Regions from separate parts of the Homo sapiens genome. Here regions 1 and 2 are each linked to region 3. The links come from fine-mapping of genetic effects on gene expression. A gene starts in region 3. Each other region holds a variant in brackets. All regions are shown on one strand. Distances are from middle to middle.

What was found. PIP is the estimated chance that this variant, and not a neighbour inherited with it, causes the effect.
Region 1: its variant is the best candidate, but not a certain one, in a credible set for the expression of LRRC28 in whole blood (GTEx, PIP 0.56).
Region 2: its variant is the best candidate, but not a certain one, in a credible set for the expression of LRRC28 in whole blood (INTERVAL, PIP 0.67).

Annotation. Positions count from the first base shown.
Region 1 is chr15:99,271,325-99,276,324 of GRCh38, reverse strand. All of the region lies in intron 2 of LRRC28 (leucine rich repeat containing 28), which reads right to left. Among named protein-coding and RNA genes, the nearest start is that of LRRC28, 22 kb to the right of the region's middle. The variant C/A (reference allele first, on the strand shown) is at 2,841.
Region 2 is chr15:99,943,104-99,953,937 of GRCh38, reverse strand. No RefSeq gene overlaps it. Among named protein-coding and RNA genes, the nearest start is that of LYSMD4, 220 kb to the right of the region's middle. The variant AG/G (reference allele first, on the strand shown) is at 5,799.
Region 3 is chr15:99,248,839-99,253,838 of GRCh38, reverse strand. It overlaps LRRC28 (leucine rich repeat containing 28), which reads right to left and starts at 2,358. Exons shown (of 10, transcript NM_144598.5): 1 at 2,298-2,358. TTC23 (tetratricopeptide repeat domain 23) reads left to right here and starts at 4,258. Exons shown (of 14, transcript NM_001288615.3): 1 at 4,258-4,668. RefSeq lists a silencer at 2,044-2,583 and an enhancer at 2,834-2,883.

The sequences.
Region 1 (5,000 bases), 22 kb before region 3:
CATGGAAGACAAATTTTCCACAGACAAGGTTGTGGGGGTGGTTTGGGGATGATTCAAGCGCATTACATTTATTTTGCACTTTATTTCTATTATTATTACATTGTAATACATAATGAAATAATTATACAACTCACCATAATGAAGAATCAGTGGGAACCCTGAGCTTGTTTTCCTGCAACTAGATGGTCCCATCTGGGGGTGACGGGAGACTGTGACAGATCGTCAGGCACTAGATTCTCATAACAAGTGCACAAACTAGATCACTCACATGTGCAGTTCACAATAGGGTTTGTGCTATGAGAATCTAATGCTGCTGCTGATGGGACAGGAGGTGGCATTCAAGCGGTAATGCAAGCCACAGGGAGTGGCTATAAATACAGATGAAGCTTCGCTTGCTTGCCTGCCACTCACCTCCTGCTGTGCGGCCCCGTTCCTAACAGGTACCAGGTCTGTGGCCCAGGGATTGGGGACCCCTGCCTTAGAGAAACCACAAACCTCATAATCCATGGTCATGGAAGAAATAAAAATGTGCTTCACAGACACAGAGAGAGGGAAGAACCAGAAACTGGAGTGATGTAACTGGAAGCTGAGGAACACCGAAGGTTGCCGGCCACTCCCAGCAAGGAGAAACTCAAGGAGCATGTGCTCCCTCAGAGCCCTGAGAAGGAACCAATCCAAATCACACCTTGATTGTGGACTCCCTGCCTCAAGAACTGTCAGAGAATACATTTTTGTTGTTTTAAGTTACCCAGTTTTTGATAATTTGTCACGGCAGCCCTGAAAAACTAATATATCCTCCAAATTCCCAAATCATGCTCCTCGAGAGAAAGTAAGGGAAATCTGCAGGGCCCCCAGGTACAAGACCTGACTAAGCTCCAAATGAACAGGGGAAGCTGGAGCTCATGTGGTCCAAGGGAGTGTCAGACCTGGCCACAGGTCCAGACATCAGAGTAGAGGGCCAGGAAATTGGCCATTGGCAGGAGAAAGAAAGGCAGACAAACCTAGGTCCTTTACCCAGAAGAAGTCAGAGCCCTGAAAGGGCTGGCCTTTCCATGAAAAGAATCCTAGAACAAAAGTCTACTCACAGGTTGAAAGCAGGCTTCTCTCTGCTGGAGGTACTGGGTAGTGGAGAAAGCCTCCTGTAAATAACTGAAAGCCAGTCTGCATACGCACACACACAAGTATATAGGCATATATATACATATAATATCTCTCTCTCTTTCTCTCACACACACATAGGGGGTTCAAATTTACACATACGAAAAGAAAGAGTCGAAAGGCTGAAGGAGCACACTGAGTCAAAACTAATTTTTTTTTCATTTACATTCAAGCTACTATAGGGTAAACTGTGTATCAATAATAATGAATCAGGAATGGCTTTTTAGAAGACATTAGGTCTGACCCGAGTTCCAAAAGACATAAATTATAAGAGGATGACATGGAATGGAGAGGAGAGTAGTTCTGTATAGCTTTCTAAGCACAAGAAGCAACATATGAAAAGCCAAAAGAGAACAAGTACAATTGGGAAACTGCAAATACAATCCATTCTGCTATAACTACATAACAGCACTCCCGAAGAAATCTTACATTTTCAAAAATCCTGTTAGAAAAACAATCATGTCAATAGAAAAACTAACGTGTTAGGTACTAGAAAGTTGACTATTTTAAATAACCAAGAAATTTTTCATAAACTTGAATTTTTAAAAATAAGCATGTGTCTTTTATAATTGAAAAAATTAAAATTGAATTTTAAGATCTGCTGTGTGCAGCATAAGCTGTTATACAATTGATTAATCAGTTATATACAATTTGAGATCTAAACACTCACTAAGACAAATGACATTAGTTTGGTATGTCTGGGCCATTAGGTATGAAGATGTGAGATTTTACAGAGAATGGCAAGGAACAGAACACTAAAGGCTTATATTTTATACTAAGGACTAGCTTTTAAAAAATCCTGAACACAATGGAAAATCACTGGTTTATTTTAAACCAGAAAATGTCATTATTAATGTCATACTGGCATACTGATGTATTTAAATACTTAGCAACAGTATCACAAACTGCTTATATATACATATCCTTCCCTTTTGTGATAACCAAGTATCATTGAATATGAATATTGTTATGAAGTCAAGGAAGCATTTTTGAATACTCACTCTTGACAGTACCATTTGTATTTCATTTTCAAATGCTGAAAGCTGTGATTCTTTTTGCCCCATATTTCTATACTGATATATGCAACAAGATCCATCATAACTAGTCATTTCTCAGATGTTCCTTGTGGATCCGTCTAAATCCCTGGAATGTTTTGTTTTTATTATCAGTATCTCCCTTGAGAATATACGCTTCCGTTTATGGGCATACATACAAAGCATCCTAGAAAAACTAGGGAACCAGTGGGTGGAGGGCCTTAATTATAGCTGTTCCTATAAAAAGGAAAGATTTGTCCAAAAAGAAATGCTGTTTGACTGTTAGACCTTCACCTAGTTTCATCTGCTAATACCAATACTATATCTGGCTAATTCACACACTCCACGGTCATTCTTTCTGGATGTCTACTTGGCTCCATCAAATAGCATTCTAATCTTTCCATGACAAACTAGTTAGTTCTTTTGAGGTGTAGCTCTACACACAATTAAGCACTGAAATAATGCTTCTGTTGCCAATAGAGCATCTCTATGTCTTTATTAACAAGTAGATACATTGTGTTTTTATTTAAAAATAAGCACATTCACTTTGAGAAAATTGCAGTTCATTAGAATAACGCCTTAAAACACACAGACACGGCCGGGCACGGTGGCTCACGCCTGTAATCTCAGCACTTTGGGAGGCCGAGG[C/A]GGGCAGATCACGAGGTCAGCAGATCAAGACCATCCTGTCTAACACGGTGAAACCCTGTCTCTACTAAAAAATACAAAAAATTAGCCGGGCGTGGTGGTGAGTGCCTGTAGTCCCAGCTACTCAGGAGGCTGAGGCAGGAAAATGGCCTGAACCCGGGAGGCAGAGCTTGCAGTGAGCCAAGATCGCGCCACTGCACTCCAGCCTGGGTGACAGAGTGAGACTCCATCTCAAAAAACAAAAACAAACAAAAAAAAACACACCACACACTTAGGAATAGATGCCCAAAACTCCTGGCAAGTAATCAGCCCTTGCACAGGCTGTGACTGACACCTACTGGTGTTCCATAATATCACTCTCTGTTTTCTAATGCCATATTTTTAGCAATGTAGCTGAGAAATGTTATACGTTTTAATTTTTACACTTCTATAATTTAGGTACAGCATATAAGAGACTAGACAACTAGAAATTAATGTCAGAATTTTTGTTACTTTGTGGGTAACTAAGCTCTAATGTTGGATTACAGAAGCCACACAAACTAGTGTATCCTAATCCATAGGATTTACAAGCTATGAAGTTTTTTAATGTTTTTAAATTTAAAATCCTGATAAAAGCAATAGTCTTAAAGTGCTTCTCAAATCTATTATTACCTTCTTTTTTCACAATTTGAAACAGAAAAGTTTATCAGATAAACATAACATGTACTCAGATACCTCCTACTAAATTACCTAGAAATTGTTTCTCTAAATCAAGCCAAGGATTCTCTTCATTAAATCTCATTTACATTATTATCTAGCTAAACAACTTTTCTTTACAATAATGAAAAAGTAAACTTCAGCAAGCACAGTTAGTATAAAACTTACCCCAAATTCTGAATCAATGATGCTTTACCATATTCTTTTAGACTCCACTTAAATGGGAATGTTTTAAAATTTTTTAACTTGGAACAAATACGTCAAATATTTTGCAAACACCACCATGTTCAATAGTATTTTCTGGTGGGCACTGTGCATTACCTACTTTCTTTCCTTCTCTTTCCGAACACCTGCTAGGACTGCACATCTTTCATCAAGCTGGCCATGGCTAAGTGACTAGCTTGGTCAGTGAAATTAAGCCAAAGAGGAAGCCTTGACAAGATTGAGTGCAAAAGACCTCACCCCTTCCACAGTGACCACCAGACGGTGGACGTTTTGTCAGCTTCATTCCTGGGCAGAGGCTCCAGGCTCTGAGAGACTAGTACAGTGTAGACAAGAAATATGTGTGCTGTTACAAGCCACTAGGACTCAGGGTTTGGCAAAACCTGCTCCATCCTGGCTTCTAACAACACATTTCAAAGAAGTCACAGATTAAATGCATTTGGGTTGTTATACAAGCTATAAAAAGCAGAAGAAAGCAGAATGAATTTGGACCACTATCTCATACCATATACAAAAATTAACTCAAAATGGATCAACAACTTAAATTTAAGAGCTAAAACCACACTTCATAGAAGAAAACATAGGAGTAAATCTCCATAATCTTAGATTTGGCAATGAATTCATAGCTATTACATCAAAAGCATGAGCAGCAACAGAAAAATAGATACACTGGCCAGGTGCAGTGGCTCAAGCCTGTAATCTCAACATTTTGGGAGGCCAAAGTGGGTGGATCATTTGAAGTCAAGAGTTCGAGACCAGCCCGACCAACATGGTCAAACCTCATCTCTACTAAAAATACAAAAAAATTAGCCGGGCGTGGTGGCATGCGCCTATAGTACCAGCTACTCTGGAGGCTGAGGCAAGAGAATCCCTTGAACCCAGGAGGGGGAGGTTGCAGTGAGCTGAGATCACGCCACTGTACTCCAGCTTGGGCAACAGAGTGAGACTCCATCTCTAAATAAATATATAAATAAATAAATAAAAGAAAAATAGGGCTGGATGCGGTGGCTCACGCCTGTAATTCCAGCACTTTGAGAGGCTGAGGCAAGTGGATCATGAGGTCAAGGGATGGAGACCATCCTGGCCAACATGGTGAAACCCCATGTCTACTAAAAATATAAACATTAGCTGGGCATGGTGGCACACACCTGTAGTCCTAGCTATTTGGGAGGCTGAGGCAGGAGAATCGCTTGAACCCAGGAGGCAGAGGTTGCAGTGAGCCAAGATGGTGCCACTGCACTCCAG
Region 2 (10,834 bases), 700 kb before region 3:
AAATCGTTGTATTTCAGAGAGTCAGGGCAATATAGTTTTGGAAAGACTACAAATCCTAGTCAGAGAGACCTGGATTCAAGACACGGGCCTAGCTTCTCACCAACTGGTTACTAAACAATGTGAAAATGGAAGTTTGGACTGACATCAATATGCAGAGATACCATGTGCCCAAGACAATACCTGACCCCAAACCATCAAACCAAAACCCCTTACCCATGGGTATGGATGTAAAAAAGCTGGGCTTTGGTGATTAAAATATTTCTTTGGAGATAGCCACTGGTGTGCCTCGTTCCAGCCCTGCCAATGAGGAGATGGTACCTCCCACCCATCTTGGGCCTAGAAAAGAAGAGGGGCTACATGGAGACCTCAAAAGGGACTTCATACCATACACGTACCCAGATGTTTAGGCAGCATAGTGGATGGGTACCTGGCTCACAGCTGAGAAATCCAGATGGAAAGAGATTGGCCCTTTGTTGGCTGGGGCTGCCAGGACAGAAAGCCACAGAAGTGGCTTAAACAAAAGAACTCTATTTCTCATAGTACTGGAGGCTGGAAGTCCCAGATCAAGATCCAGCAGGGCTTGGTTTCTGGCGAGGGTGCTCTTCCTGGCTCTCAGACAGCTGCTGTGTCCTCCCATGGCCTTTCCTCTGAGCACTCTTGGAGAAAGAGTGAAGGAGAGTTCTCGGTGTCCCTTCTCATAAGGATACTAATCCTACGGATGAGGGCCCCACCCTTATGGCCTCATTTAACCCTAATTACCTTGTTATAGGCCCTGTTTCCAAATTCAGTCACACTGGGGGTTAAGGTTCAACATATGAATGGGGGGCAGGGGGACAATTCAGTCTATAGCAGGCAACCTAGCTACTTTGATGGCAGAGGAAGGGAGGTAGCTGCACCAGAATCAGCCTGCACTTTCAGAGTGTGTCAGAGTAGAGACAGTGGGGGGCCATGTACGAGAGACAGCTGATGTGCGGTGGCTTAGGTCCTGTCCAAGGGGACTGTGTGGTGAGGAGACAATAGGAGAATACCAGCTGTGATCCACCAGCGTCCCTGGAGCTGAAGAAGGAGTACTAACCGCAAGTAGAGAAAAGCCCATCTTCTACATCAGCCTGCAGGAGAGAGATGTCAGCAGATAACAGGGTGATGGATGTGTATCTCCAGGCCACCTATGAACGTGCTCTAGGAGGCAAAGTTAGCTCTGAGCACTTGCAAGGCCCAGAGAACAATCATATTTGATAGTCACATCAGTATCTGCCAAGAAGGAACCTTCCTGGTCCCCTTTCCCCTCCACCTGCCCCCAGCCCATGGAAGACAAAGAATTCCCAGGTGGGGAAAGCTCTAACAGGCTTACTGTGGACTCTTCCCCCAGGCAATCTTCCTCCTGAAGCCAGAAGAGAAAGAATAGATTCAACTTTAAACGAAATTCAGAGTTGTATTATGCCACGAAACTGGATAGTTTTATTACTGAATCGAGACCATATTTTGCAACTTAAGTTGACTTGAGAAAGTTGACTGGGAAACTATTTTTATTACCTTGGAGAGACCAAAAAAATTCATGGACCAAAACTTTCATCCAGGGTCAGGGGAAGAACCAGCCCCAAGAATAGATTTATAGAGACAGTGAAGAGGTGGCAAGAACATGCTTCATGGGGACTCCCCCGACCTGGAATTTGTGTGTGTTCAATGCCACAGGTACACATGCTACATGGTTTGCCATCTTAAAATAGGGATAATATAACTTGCCATGGAATATTGCTCTGAACGTTAAACTACATATGTTAATGTCTGCAAGACACCTAGGACAGCACCTGGCACTCAGTAGGTCCAAAGACATGGTAGCCAGTGTGATTGTTGTTGGTGATAGTGTAGCAAGAGCATTAAGAAGTACCTAGAGGTTAGAAGTCTCTGCAACTCCGAGCTTGCTTTGTGTCTTCTCCCTCCAAAGTTGACTCTCATGTTAAGGTCAGTTTCTAGTACTATGGAATTCCAAGGAAGTTCCAAACTGCAAGGAAATCTGACCTCTCTCTCTCCCCCAAGCCCAATACAACATTTGAATTTTATGTGGAAATCTTAAACCTCTCCTTCTCATTTGGTCTCACTTGGAGCTTTGAAAATATAAGATATGCCATATATGGTTTCTCCCCAGACTCATGCCGAACACTAGTCACTGTTTTCCAGAAACCTCAGCATCTGCTCAGCTATCTAGCCCCTGGGATCACTGCGAAATTGGACTAATACCAAGGACCGGTTACCACAGTACGTCATCTACTCATGAATACTGTTAAGTGAGCTTGGTTTCAAGAAACCTTAAACCTTCAATGCATAACTCAATTCAGTCTTTTCTTGGCATTCCAGAACATGATTAATGGTGACGCCATGCCACAAATAAGTTATACATGGCTCAGAACTCTAATTCACAATTGATTAGTCCATGAACAATAGCCCTGAGTAACGTAGTGTTAATGGCCAGCCCCGGTGGTCTGTTCCTACCAGAAACCCATTACTAAGTCCACCCTGTGTTTTACAGCATCCCTACTGGAGCCCAATATCTGCTTATGGGGGCAACTGCTTTGTTTAATGGTTGCTAGCCACGTGCAATTAGCTAGAGTAGAACAGACACTTTAGAGGTTACTGCTTCAGCCTCCTAGTGAGAGGATGGGAAATATGATTTTTTAAAAAGTCAGTTTGCCTTCAAGTGGATCATATTCCCACAGACTGGGAAATAGATGCCTTCACATTGTGCTTTGGATGAGGGCAGGGAGAAAAGGCAACCTGTAACCAGTGATTTCCAAAGGCAGCAGGGGTCACTGGCTGCATGGGCAGGAAGTGAAACTCTTACAGGCCTGCCAGGTGGAATGGAAGGATGTCTGAAACTGTAGGGAAGGAAGATACATCAGACAGTGAGAGGGAATGAATGTGAAGACAGGGGGGACAGGTGGCAATGAAATGTGAATCCACATGAAGAAATAAACAGCACTGATAAAGGTAACTACATAGGTAGATATAAAAGACAGTACAACTGGAATTTTTGTAACTCCTTTTCTCCTATTTGTTTTAAAATAGGAGAAAACTATATGAAACAAGCCTCTGTCAATGGACACATAATGTATAGAAATGTAATTTATAATAAGAGCATAAAAGAAATACACTGTGACCTATATGAGAAAAAAAATCAAGAAACAATCCCACTTAATATCAAGAAACAATCCCACTTAATAATATCTATCAAAAAATAGAAATAATTAAGGAGGGCAAAGATCTATACACTGAAAACTATAAAACATTGATGAAAGAAATTGAGGAAGACTTCAATAAGTGAAAAGATATCCTGTGTTCCTGGATTGGAATAAATAATATTGTTAAAATGTTCATACTACCCAAAGTGACCTATGGATTCAATGCAACTCCCATCAAAATTCCAACGACATTTTTCACAGAAATAGGAAACAATTCTAAAACTCATATGGAACCATAAAAGACCCAAATAGCCCAAGCAGTCTTGAGCAAAAAGAACAAAGCCAGAGGCATCACACTACCTGACTTCAAAATACACTACAAAGGTATAGTAATCAAAAGAGCATGGCACTGGCCCCAAAACAGACATATAAATCAAGGAAGCAGACTAGAGAGCCCCAAAATAAATCTACACATTTGCAATTGATTTTTTCCACAATGATGGCAAAAATACATGATGAGGGGAAGGACAGTGTAAATTAAATGGTGCTGGGAAGACTGGATAGCCACATATGGAAGATTGAAATTAGATCCTTATCTCACACCATATACAAAAATAAAATGCATTAAAAACTTAAATGTAAGACCTGAAAATGTTAAACTATTAGAGGAGAACATAGGGGGAAGTTTGATGACATTGGTCTGGGCAATTATTTTTTGGATATGACCCAAAAAGCACAGGCAAAAAAAGCAAAAATACACATATGGGATTATATAAACTAAAAAGTTTCTACACAGTAAAGAAAACAACCAACCGCATAAAGAGACAATTTACAGGAGAAAATATTTGCAAACCATACATCTGATAATGGTTTAAATCAAAAATATCTGAAGAACTCAAGCAACTCAATAGCAAGAAAACAAATAACCTTATTTGTTTTTAGTGAGCAAAGGACCTGAATACACATTTCTCAAAAGGAGACATACAAATGGCCAACAGATATATGAAAAAATTTGCAACATCACTAAACGTTAGAGAAATGCAAATTAAAACCACAGTGAGATCTCACACTTGTTAGAATAGCTATTATCAAAAAGATGAAAAATAACAAGTGTTGGTAATGTGGAGAAAATGAAACCCTTGTACATAGTTGGTGGGAATGTAAATCAGTACAACCATTACAGAAAACAGTATGAAGGCTTCTTAAAAATAGAACTACCATATGACCCAACAATCCTACCACTGGATATATATACAAAGGAAATCGATATGTCAAAGAGATATCTGCACTTCCATGTGCACAGCAGCATTATTCACAAAGACCATGATAGAGAAACAACCCAAGTGTCCATCAACAGATGAATAAAGTAAATGTGGCTGTGTATACAAAATGGAATACTATTTAACCTTAAAAAGAAGGAAATTCTGTCATTTGCAAAAACATGGATGATCCTGGAAGATATGTTAAGTGAAATAAGCCAAACACAGAAAGACAAATACCACATGATCTCACACATGAAATCTAGGCCAGGTGCTGTGGCTCACGCCTGTAATCCCAGCACTTTGGGAGGCCAAGGAGGGCAGATCACTTGAAATCAGGAGTTCGAGACCAGCCTGGCCAACATGGTGAAACCCTGTCTCTACTAAAAATACAAAAATTAGCCAGGTGTGGTGGTAAGCACCTGTACTCCCGGCTATTAGGGAGGCTGAGGCAGGAGAATTGCTTAAACCTGGGAGGCAGAGATTGCAGTGAGCCAAGATCGTGCCACTGCACTCCAGCCTGGGTGACAGAGCATGACCCTGTCTCAAAAAAAAAAAAAAAAACACTAAAACAGTTGAACTCATAGAAGCAGAGAATATAATGGTGCTTGCCAGGGGCTGGGGTATGGGGTGTTGGGGAGATGTTGGTCAAAGCATGCAAAATTCAGATATACATTAGGAATAAGTTCAAGAGATCTGTTGTACAGCATGGTGACTATAGTTAACAATGTACTGTATATTCAAAAATCACTAAGAACATAGATTTTAAGTGTTTTCACCACAAAAAAATACATGAGGTAATGCATGTTAATTAGCTAAATTTAGCCATTCTACAACGTGTATATATTTCAAATCATGTTATATACCATAAATATTTATAATTTTCAACATAAAATATTAATTCATTTTTAAGAAGTCCTATTGACCAGGCACGGTGGCTCGCTCCTGCAATCCCAACACTTTGGGAGGCCGAAGTGGGTAGATCATGAGGTCAGGAGTTCAAGACCAGCCTGGCCAAAATGGTGAAACCCCATCTCTACTAAAAATACAAAAATTAGCCAGGTGTGGTAGTGGGCGCTACTTGCGAGGCTGAGGCAAAGAATTGCTTGAACCCAGGAGGCGAAGTTTGCAGTGAGCCAAGATCGTGCCACTGCACTCCAGCCTGGGTGACAGAGCAAGACTCCATCTCAAAAAAAAAAAAAAATTCCTATTACAGTAGATATCAAAGGAAAGAGATTTAAAAGAAACTACCAGAGCAATGAGAAAAAATCTATACCCCAATATCATGAAACTCTGTATCATCTATAGACACCCTGCATTTCACTATTACATGAGAGAGAAACTTTGGTGTTAAAAAAAAAAA[AG/G]AAAGAAACTTCTAACCTTACATAGCCTGGCAGAAGTTGAAGAGGTAAGGTTTGCCAAGTCATTATGATAGAGATGGGAAATAGAGGAAGAGATACTTGTGGTTGAAAGTAAAAATAAACTGAGTAAGGAAAACCTGGGCTTGAATCTCAGTCATCCCTTTTTTAAGCATTTATACCTTAGAGAAGGTACTTAACTACACTATCTGCCAATTTCATCATCTATAAAATGAGAATAAATATACCTAACTTTCAGGTTGTTTTAAGAATTACCTATAATGGGCCAGGTGTGGTGGCTTACGCCTGTAATACCAACACTTTGGGAAGCTGAGGCAGGCGGGTCACTTGAGGTCAGTTTGAGACCAGCCTGGCCAACATGGTGAAACCCTGGCTCTATTAAAAATACAAAAATTAGCCAGGCACGGTGGTGGGAGCCTGTAATCTCAGCTACTTGGGAGGCTGAGGCATGAGAATTGCTTGAACCCGGGAGGCAGAGGTTACAGTGAGCTGAGATTGTGCCACTGCACTCCAGCCTGGGCGACAGAGCAAGACAAAAAAAAAAAAAAAAAAAAAAAAAATGTATATATATATATATATATATATATATATATATATATATATAATGACTAGTTGATATAATACATTATTTTTAAAAAGAGCATGAAGATGGAGGAGGGAACAAAGCTATATAGTAACAAAGTTTTTGTATACTATTAAAATTAAGTTGATATTATTACATACTGGATTACTATAAATCAAGACGTTAATGGTAAACTCCCAGGGCAACCACTAAGAAAATAACTCAAAAATATATTGTTAAAGAAAAAACAAGGGAATTGAGATTGTACATAGAAAATATCTTTTTAACAGAAAAGGCAGTAATGATGGAATTGAAGAAGAAAAAGATATAAGACTTAATAGAAAACCAAACAGCAGAATGGCATACATAAATTCTACCCTATCAGTAATTAAATTAAATATAAATGTATTAAACTCTCTAATTAAAAGGCATAGATTGTCAGAATGGATTTAAAATAAAAACATGATCCGACTGTTATCTATGAGAGACTCACTTTAGATTCAAAGACGCATATAGGTTGAAAGAATTAATAAAAGGATAGCAAAAGATGTGCCACACAAACAGTAACCAAAGGAGAGTTGGAGTGGCTATAATTATTTCAGACAAAATTGACTTTCAGTCAAAAATTGTTACTAGAGACAAGGAAATAATTTTATAATGATAAAAGGGTCAATCCATCAAGACAATCTAACAATTACAAACTTATAAAATACAACAGTTGAACAATGTCATCAATCTACTATATTTAACAGATATTTATAGAACTCCACCCAACAATATCAGAATACACATTCTTCTCAAGTGCATAGGGAACATTATCCATATGCTAGGCCATAAAACAAGTCTCAGTAAATTAAAAGGATTCAAATCATACAAAGCATGTTCTCCAACTATAATGGAATTAGAAATCTATAATAGAGAGAAATTTGGGAAATGCACAAATATGTGAAATTAAACAACATACTCCTAAATAACCAATGAATCAAAGGAGAAAGTGTTAGGAAAATTAGAACATACTTTGAGATAAATGAAAATGAAGACACATTCCAAAACTTATTGAATGCACTTAGAACGGTGCTCAAAGAGATATTTTTAGCTACACAAGCTTTCACTTCAAAAAAAGTAAATAACCTACCCTTCAACATTAAGAAACTGGACATGAAGTACAGACTAAACTGAAAGCAAGCATAAGAAATTGAATAATAAAAATAAGCGTGGAAATAGAAAAATGAGAGAAAAAAATCAATGACCATAAAAATTATTTTAAAAAAATCAACACAAATGACAAACTATTAGCTATGTTGCCCAAAAAAGAAAAGAAGACTCAAAGTATTAAAACCAGAAATGAAGATGATATTACTACCAAACTTACAGAAATAAAAAGGATATAAGGGAATATTATGAACTGAATGCCAAAAAATTAGATAATCTAGATGAAGTTGACAAATTTTTAGAAAGGTAAAAATTGCCAAAACTACTTCAAGAAAAAATAGAAAATATGAATCGATTATGACAAGTAAAGAGATTGAGTCAGTAATCAAAACACTTTCAACACACACAGAAAAAGGCTAGGACCAAACGGCTTCACTAGTGAGTTCTACCAAACTATTTATGAGCTAACTAATCTTTGACCAAGTTACCCAAAAATAGAAAATAAGGGAACATTTTTCAACTCATTATATGAGGCCGATATTACCTTGACGCCAAAATCAGACAAAGTCATTAAAAGAAAACTATGGGTCAATATTCCTCATGAGGCTGGGCACAGTGACTCATGCCTGTAATCCCAGCACTTTGGGAGGCCAAGGCAGGAAGATTGCTTGAGGTCAAGAGTTTGAGACAAGCCTGGGCAACATAGCAAGACACCATCGCTACAAAAAAATTTTTTTAATTAGCCAGGTGTAGTGGTACATGTCTGTAGTCCTAGCTATTCTAGAGGCTGAGGTGGGAGGATCCCTTGAGCCCAGGAGTTCAAGGCTGCAGTGAGCTATGATTATGCCACTGCACTCCAGCCTGCATTACAGAATGAGACCCTGTCTCAAAAAAAAAAAAGAAAAAAAGAAAAATGTCCCTATGAGTATAGATTCAAAAGTCCTCAACAAAATAGTAGCAAACAGAATATAGCAGTATATTACAAGAATTAAACACTATGACCAAGTGGGATTTATCCTGGGAATGCAACCTTGGTTCAACATATGAAAAATCAACCAATGTAATTGCTTTAGTTTCCTATGGCTGCTGTAACAAGTTACCATAAATCTGGTGACACAAACTAGATAGCATCTTTAAAACTCTGTTTCTATCATTACATCATCTTCTCTGATTCTGATTTTCCTATATCTTTTCTATAAGTACTCTTGTGATTGCATTAGTTCCACCCAGATAATCCAAGAAAATCTCCCCACCTCAAGAACCTTAACCTAACATCTACAGGTTACTTTTACCACATAAGATAATATATTTATAGGTTCTGAAGATTAGGACTTGGGCCTCTTTGAGTTGTCATTATTCTGCATACCACATATTAATCAGATAATGTTAATTTAATAATATAAGATACCAATAGAAGTGAGAGAAACTAAATATTAACCAAAAAAAGGAGGGGGAAAAGCATAATCATCAACAGATTCAGAAAAAGTACTTGACAAAACACCACACTCTTTCATGATAAAAACACAACACACTAGGAACAGAAGCGAAGTTTTAGAGTAACATCAGCAAGATGACTGACTGAAGACCCTCGCACTCATCCACCCACAAAGACAGCCAAAACAACAAACAAACCACCACTTTTTGATGAAAATAACTAAAGGAGGGCACCAAAGTACATCAAAGGAGTAGCAGAAACCCTGTAGAGCAAAGAAACCCACTATTGCCCCACGGAGAAAGGAAGGAACACAGCTCACCTCTGCCACCCCATTTCCCAGTTGGGATCAACTAAAAACTAGGAGGGACTATTTCCTACAGAGAAAAGGTAAGAACTTCATCAGCCTCCATTATCACCTTGGACACCTGTAGTTCTCACAGGCACTAAGGCCAGCCTAGGGAGTTGCCTGGAGTTCACACAGCTGTGCTCCCCCAAGAGAAGGAGTCAACATTGTGTCCCACTCCAGTGGCCTGGCTACTGTGCTATGACATCTTGGAACCAGAATCACTGCTGGAGTGTGTCCTGCTCCAGGAGTGAGTGATCACAGCACCCTCAGCACCTTTCCATCCCTGAGGCCTTGACACCACTGGGCCATCCCTGCCTGGTGGTCTGCCATCCCTGAGAAGAGCTGCTGCTACACCCTACCCCATGCGGCCATGCTACTGTAGAACTACTTCATCTACCACTCCCAGTTGCTACTGTGCCCTGCCCCTCCAGGCCTGAGCTGAAGTGGCACACTGCATCCTGGGGAAATGCTACATTGGCTGTCTAGAGCATCCATACTCTCCAGGCCAGAACTGAAGTGGCACCCTGCATTCCAGCAAATGGTGCCCTGACTGCCCAGAGCAGCCACACTCCCCAGGCCTCAGCTGAAATGGTGCATCACCTCCGGTGTAATTAATGCCTTGGCCAAGCTAAGCAGTGGCACATCCCAGGGATGAACTGACATGGTCCCCTGTGTCCCAGGGAAATAGGGCAGTGGCTAAGCTGCGACACCCCATCCTACTGGGCAAATAACTGTAGTACCTTGCTTCTCTGGAACTGGACTCACCCCTAGAGTCTGAGCTGCTGAGACATTTCACTCACAAGGAATAGTGCCATTGTCGTACTTCTCCCTGCCTCCCCCTCCCCAACTGGCGCTGTGGACCCAAGTGAAAGCTGAACTCTGCTAATCTGAGATCCTTGTTGCAGCCTCACCTTGCCTTACCGAGCCTCCCATTTCCCACCATCCCAGGGTCCAGAGTCATGACTACATGGTGTTTCATCCCCCCTACGCCTGAGTTGCCATTGTACCCTATTGGCTCTGGTTCCTGAATTGCAGCTGTACCCCTGATGCCCAGGCTCACACCTCCAGAGCTCCCCTTCTTCTATGAAGCTAGGCCAGTGCTATTCCCTAACCCCTAGAGTCGGAGTCACAGCTACAACCCGGCCGCCTGGGTTCAAGCTGCTGGGAGTTGCCTCAGATTATAGACTCTGGCTCTGTGGGCAGTCTGCATGCAACCCTTCCTTCAGAGATTGAACCTGTACCCCAAGACCCAGGTGCCACAGTTCGTTCTCAAGACCCTGAGTCCAGGGCCCAAGCTCCACATTTGCTCTTGTCACCTGTGACCTGGAACCCCACGCTGCTGCAGCTGCTCGTGGGCTGTGTCAGAACATCAAAAGGGGTCCTCTCAGCTAGTCTTCTCATTGTGGGGAAAAGAAAAACAGGAGGACCCCAAAAGCTGTTGCCACCTGGGATCCTAACAACCTACACTGCCACTGCTGCTGCCACATATTGCTATAGCCTAGGCTACTGAGGCACCCAGTCATTG
Region 3 (5,000 bases):
CAAATCCATCCAAATCTCTCCATCTGCCAAAACCACAAGCCACAGTCATCTCCTGCCTGGCCAACAGTATTACCAGTCTCCCTGTGTCCACTCTAGTCACTTCCAACACATTAATCCCAGCAATGGGCCTTTAAAAATGTACATCCAATTACATCTCACTCTTTTCGGTACACATCTTACTAAATAAACCCTTCAGAAACTTCTTACTTAGAAAATCAACTCATACTAGGCCTTGAGGGTGCCTCACCATCTGCCCCCACCCACTTCTCCAGCAACTCTGCTTGGCTTCTCACCAAGCTTCTGGGCTTTTCCAATCCTCAAAGCTACTAAACCCCTAACAGCACTTGCTGGTCTCCTCTTAGCCTAGAAAGCAATGTCCCATCATTCTCCAGATTTCAACATAAAAATTACTTCCTGAGACCGGGCGCAGTGGCTCACGCCTGTAATCCTAGCACTTTGGGAGGCCGAGGAGGGTGGATCACCTGAGGTGAGGAGTTCGAGACCAGCCTGGCCAACTTGGCGAAACCCCATCTCTACTAAAAATACAAAAATTAGCTGGGTTTGGTGGCGGGCGCCTGTAATCCCAGCTACTCGGGAGACTGAGGCAGGAGAATCTCTTGAAACCGGGAGGCGGAGCTTGCAGTAAACCGAGATCGCACCACTGCACTCCAACCTGAGCGACAGAGCGAGACTCAGTCTTAAAAAAAAAAAAATCACTTCCCTATCCCAAAGTAATTCCCCTGGTGTTCTTTCAGAGGAACTTGGCTGTTTGTTTTTTCTTCGTAGGACTCCTCACAATTTGTCACTTAAATATTTATCGTTGCATCTGTCTATTGTCAATAAAGCCAAAAAGCCTGTAAATAAACCCTTCCGAAACTTATTTAGAAATCCTGAGGGCAGGGACTGCGTTGTTTTCTTCACGCTTGCATACCTGCATCTAGCACAGTAACTAAAAGTAACCCTTCCTAAAACCTAGGTGATGGGTTGACAGGTGCAGCAAATCACCATGGCACACGTTTACCTATGTAACAAACCGGCATATTCTGCACATGTATCCAGGGACTTAAAATTTTAAAGTAGGCCTTCTAATATCTGATGACATGTGGAAGAACATTGCAAGGTTGATTTTTCATCCAACTATGTCAAGACCACGGATAGAGCCTATAAGCTTGCTACATGCCACAAGGATGTCTAATCTTTACAACCATGCACTGCAATAGACATTATGTAGCCCGTTTTGTAGAGGAGGAAACTGAGTTTCTCAGAGGGTAACATGCCATAGTTCCATCGCAGGTGGACTGACTACAAAGCGTGTGCACCGCCGCCCTATAATGCAAAACCACACTCACTGAAGGAAGATTCAATAAGACAGTCCCTGTAACCTGACGGCTTTCCTTCTGAATGTTCTGGCTGGGATTGGCTGCCTCAAAAACACCATTACACTCTGTTAAAATTGCTACAAAGGCTGTTTGGGAGATAAAATCTAAACAAATGAAATCCTAAAACTGCCAATAATAGCAATAAAGCATCAACAATGCTCACAGTTTTGCAGTATGCATTCACGGGCCATACACAGCCTTTAACAAGGTAATTTTCTTACCCCATTTCACTTGACTACATCTTACCTAGTTAAGCAAACTACCTCTTGTATAGTTATACTACCTCTTATGTAGTTAAGGCAAATAGTATTACTTAATATCAGCTGTATACAGCTGCACTTACACACGAGCTTTCTGACAGGTGAACACCAATCTATCTTATTATTAAAAACAAAACAAAAAAATCAAAAACCTCTCAACAAAATTCCACACATATTAAGGAGTATTTTGAAAGGAAGGAGTCCCTTATACTGACCTCCCCGTACTCAATTTAGTAGAATACGCATTCCAATTTCCTAACGCTGGAGATTAGAGAACTATAAGCTACATATTAAAAGCATTTGTAAAAGGCTATTTTCTCAGCTGTGGTAACAAACACTGGCAGAGTCTTAGGCAAAACACACGCCGTTTCGCCCGAGTTAGCCAGCCACTGAGATCGTTACAGTTGGGAAGCAGCGAGCCCAGCAGCAGGGATTTCACGGACCCGGTATCAGGGTTCTCGGGTCCCAGGGGCCGCGGGCCGCAGAGTGGGAGGAGGACCCGGCAGCTGTGGCCACCCGAGGCCCGGACGGCTCCGCTGTCCCACTCGCCGCGACCCGGACGCTTTGGCAGGACCACGTCTGGGGCGTCCCCGCCGGGGGGCCGGGTCAGAGAGCCTCGCCACTTGAATCACCCGACGAGGCGGACAGCTCTACTCACCTCAGCGCCAGCAGAGCCAGCGCTCCGGAGCGCAAGCGGCGCTGGAAGCCAAGCGGGGGACGGCGGGCGGGGCGGGGCAGGGAGCCAGGCGAGGGCGGGGCGGAGCGCCGGGCGTCGGGGGCGGGGCTCCGGGGGTGGAGCGGAACCCGCGCCAGAGGGAGCTGGGGAAGAGGGAGCGGGAGAGGAGCACGGAACCTCGCGATAATCCCCTGTGTTCTCGCGCTTTCACGATAGGCGCGGGAAAATGCTCGTTTGCCAAGCGATCTGTGTATTGGCCGAGAGCGCTACTTCCTCTATGCTGGCCCCGCCCGCGGCTCTACTCTTGCTTCCGGCTCCGGCGTGGGGTTTGATGTCGACGGAGTGGCTTTTGCTTAGCGTCTTGAAGGGGTAATTTAGTCGGCTCCAACTTCGGGAACCGCCAGTTACTGACCTGTTCCTTCATTCATACATTCATTCAGTCACTCGGCTTCTCATTCAGAGCACACGTTGAGGGATTACAACAATGATCCCACGTTGAGCGTTCGTTCTAAGAGCTGTTTATAGATTATCTCGTTGAACCCTTGACAGCAATCCCATGACACAGGGACTAACAGCGCCAGTCTGACCGTTGAAAAACAGGCCAGTGGGTTTATGTAACGAAGCCAACGTTATTTAGCAAGTAGTGAGTCTAAGCACCGGATTTAAGGGGTCACTACGAACTGGTAGATAACAAAGATGAGGAGGACGTAACCTAGTCTCTGCCCTTCAAACACCCAAGGTTTATTTTGAGTAAAGATTGCTAAAAAGGTCAGGAACAATTTAGAGAGTTAAATACAATGACACTTCCTAGCCTGACTGAGTAGGCCGTCAATATGTATTTCTTCAAGACGAAAATTATTATGTCAGCGAAATAGCATGAAAGAGGGCTTTATGCTGTTAAAAATACTTGGAAGCATAGTTCGGAAACATTTTTAAAAGACACTTTTTAAAGTGTCTCATTAATATGACAAATTTCCTTCTGAAATGAAGATTTTAAAGTATAATCCTCTACTACAACCGCTGATATTTTTTGTTCTGTGGAAAGCCTGTCTATGAGTTTGCGAGGCTCCTTGTCAAGGAACTTTAACTTTATAATGAAGTAGTTTTTACAGTTGCTGACTTAATTATTCATAGAGACGAATAACCTAGAAAGCAGAGTTATATTAAATAAAAAACATTGGTTTTAAAACAAGGTATGAGTTATAATAAAAATTATCAGTTATCTATTAAATCTGGTCTTCAAGAGCTATTCAGGTATACAGCATGGTTGGTATATGTCATGTATTTCTAAGATAGTTTCGGAATACCTAAGAATTCGTGGCACTCAGAAATTTTTTGCTGGTCTTAAAATGAGGAAATCCACATTTTGTGTAAAAACAAAGATACGGTGTTTAATGGTCAGCCCAAATAATAAGACTTGCTGCTAATATATGAAGAGTTACACCCCCCAAAAAAGAAAAAAGATTAACAGTAGAACAGTTTTTTGAAAACAATGTTAGCCTCTTAGTTTTCATTTCTTTTTTTTAATGGGGAATACTGTTTTTCAGTGATTAATATCTGATATTTGATCATGAAAAATGAATCATGTTAAAATAACCTTCACCTCCTCCCCACATTGACACAAAAGTTACCAAGTGATTATATTTGATAATACTTTATGACCCCACTCTTGAAGTTCTCACAATTTGTAGAGAATCAATTCGCACGTTTTGTCTCTCTTAAAGGGGAAAAAAATCCTCTAAGCTGGTGATTTCACGTTCTTTGACAAACTTCAATATCAACAGGCAACGATACCACTTTAAGAAAATTCCAAGGAAAAGACCTCATTTTAAAATTCCCACCTCTGGCTCCCAAAGATTGGTTTGCAAACTTCGACAAAATACTCTTCTCCACTCGCTATTGGTGAGTGCTCTATCATTCATTCTTTTGCCTGGAGTTTTGTGAGGTACCCGCTTGCTTTATGGGAAAAGGCTGCTCCGGAACTGCCCTACTTTAGACTTTTTCATGGTTATCAATCTGTACAAAGAATCACCAAACTGATAAAGCAGGAACCAGAGGGCAAATCACGCTGCCAAGACAACTGTGTAATTCGCTCGAAAAAGAAACGGTGAGCCTCTCCAGCAGACTGGGTAAACTGGCAAGGGATTTTACGACATAGTTGGAGATTGGAGAGTTACAGAAACTTTTCCGGTTTTTTACAAGTTTTAAAGGAGTGATTGAGTGTCAAAGGAAAAGCAGAGAAAATACAGGCACAATTTAAAGACAGCAGGAAGAAGAGTGTTCAGAGAGCATTTTTCTCTTTAGGGTGAAGTTTGAAAGCATCATGCCCAGATTATCAGTGGATTTTTGAAAGGTAAAGGAGGCAAGATAATAAGATTAACTATAGATCATTTTCTACTTTAAGAAACTGTGCTTCGTTATTGTTGCTTAAGTGTGGATTTAGAAGGACATTTAGTAATATTGTAATTTTTATATGGATATTTTTGTTTATATATTGTCATACCTGGCATAATAGATAATATATCTATTAAAAGATATAGGAGAAAATAGAGTTGCTTGAACCCAAATTTTGTGTATATTTGTGGATTAGGGATTCCAGGGACAGATCTGCTAATGGCTGAACAAAACATACTACAGATACCTGAAGCAGAATCAGCATGTAAGGGTAAATTCTCAAAAAAATCC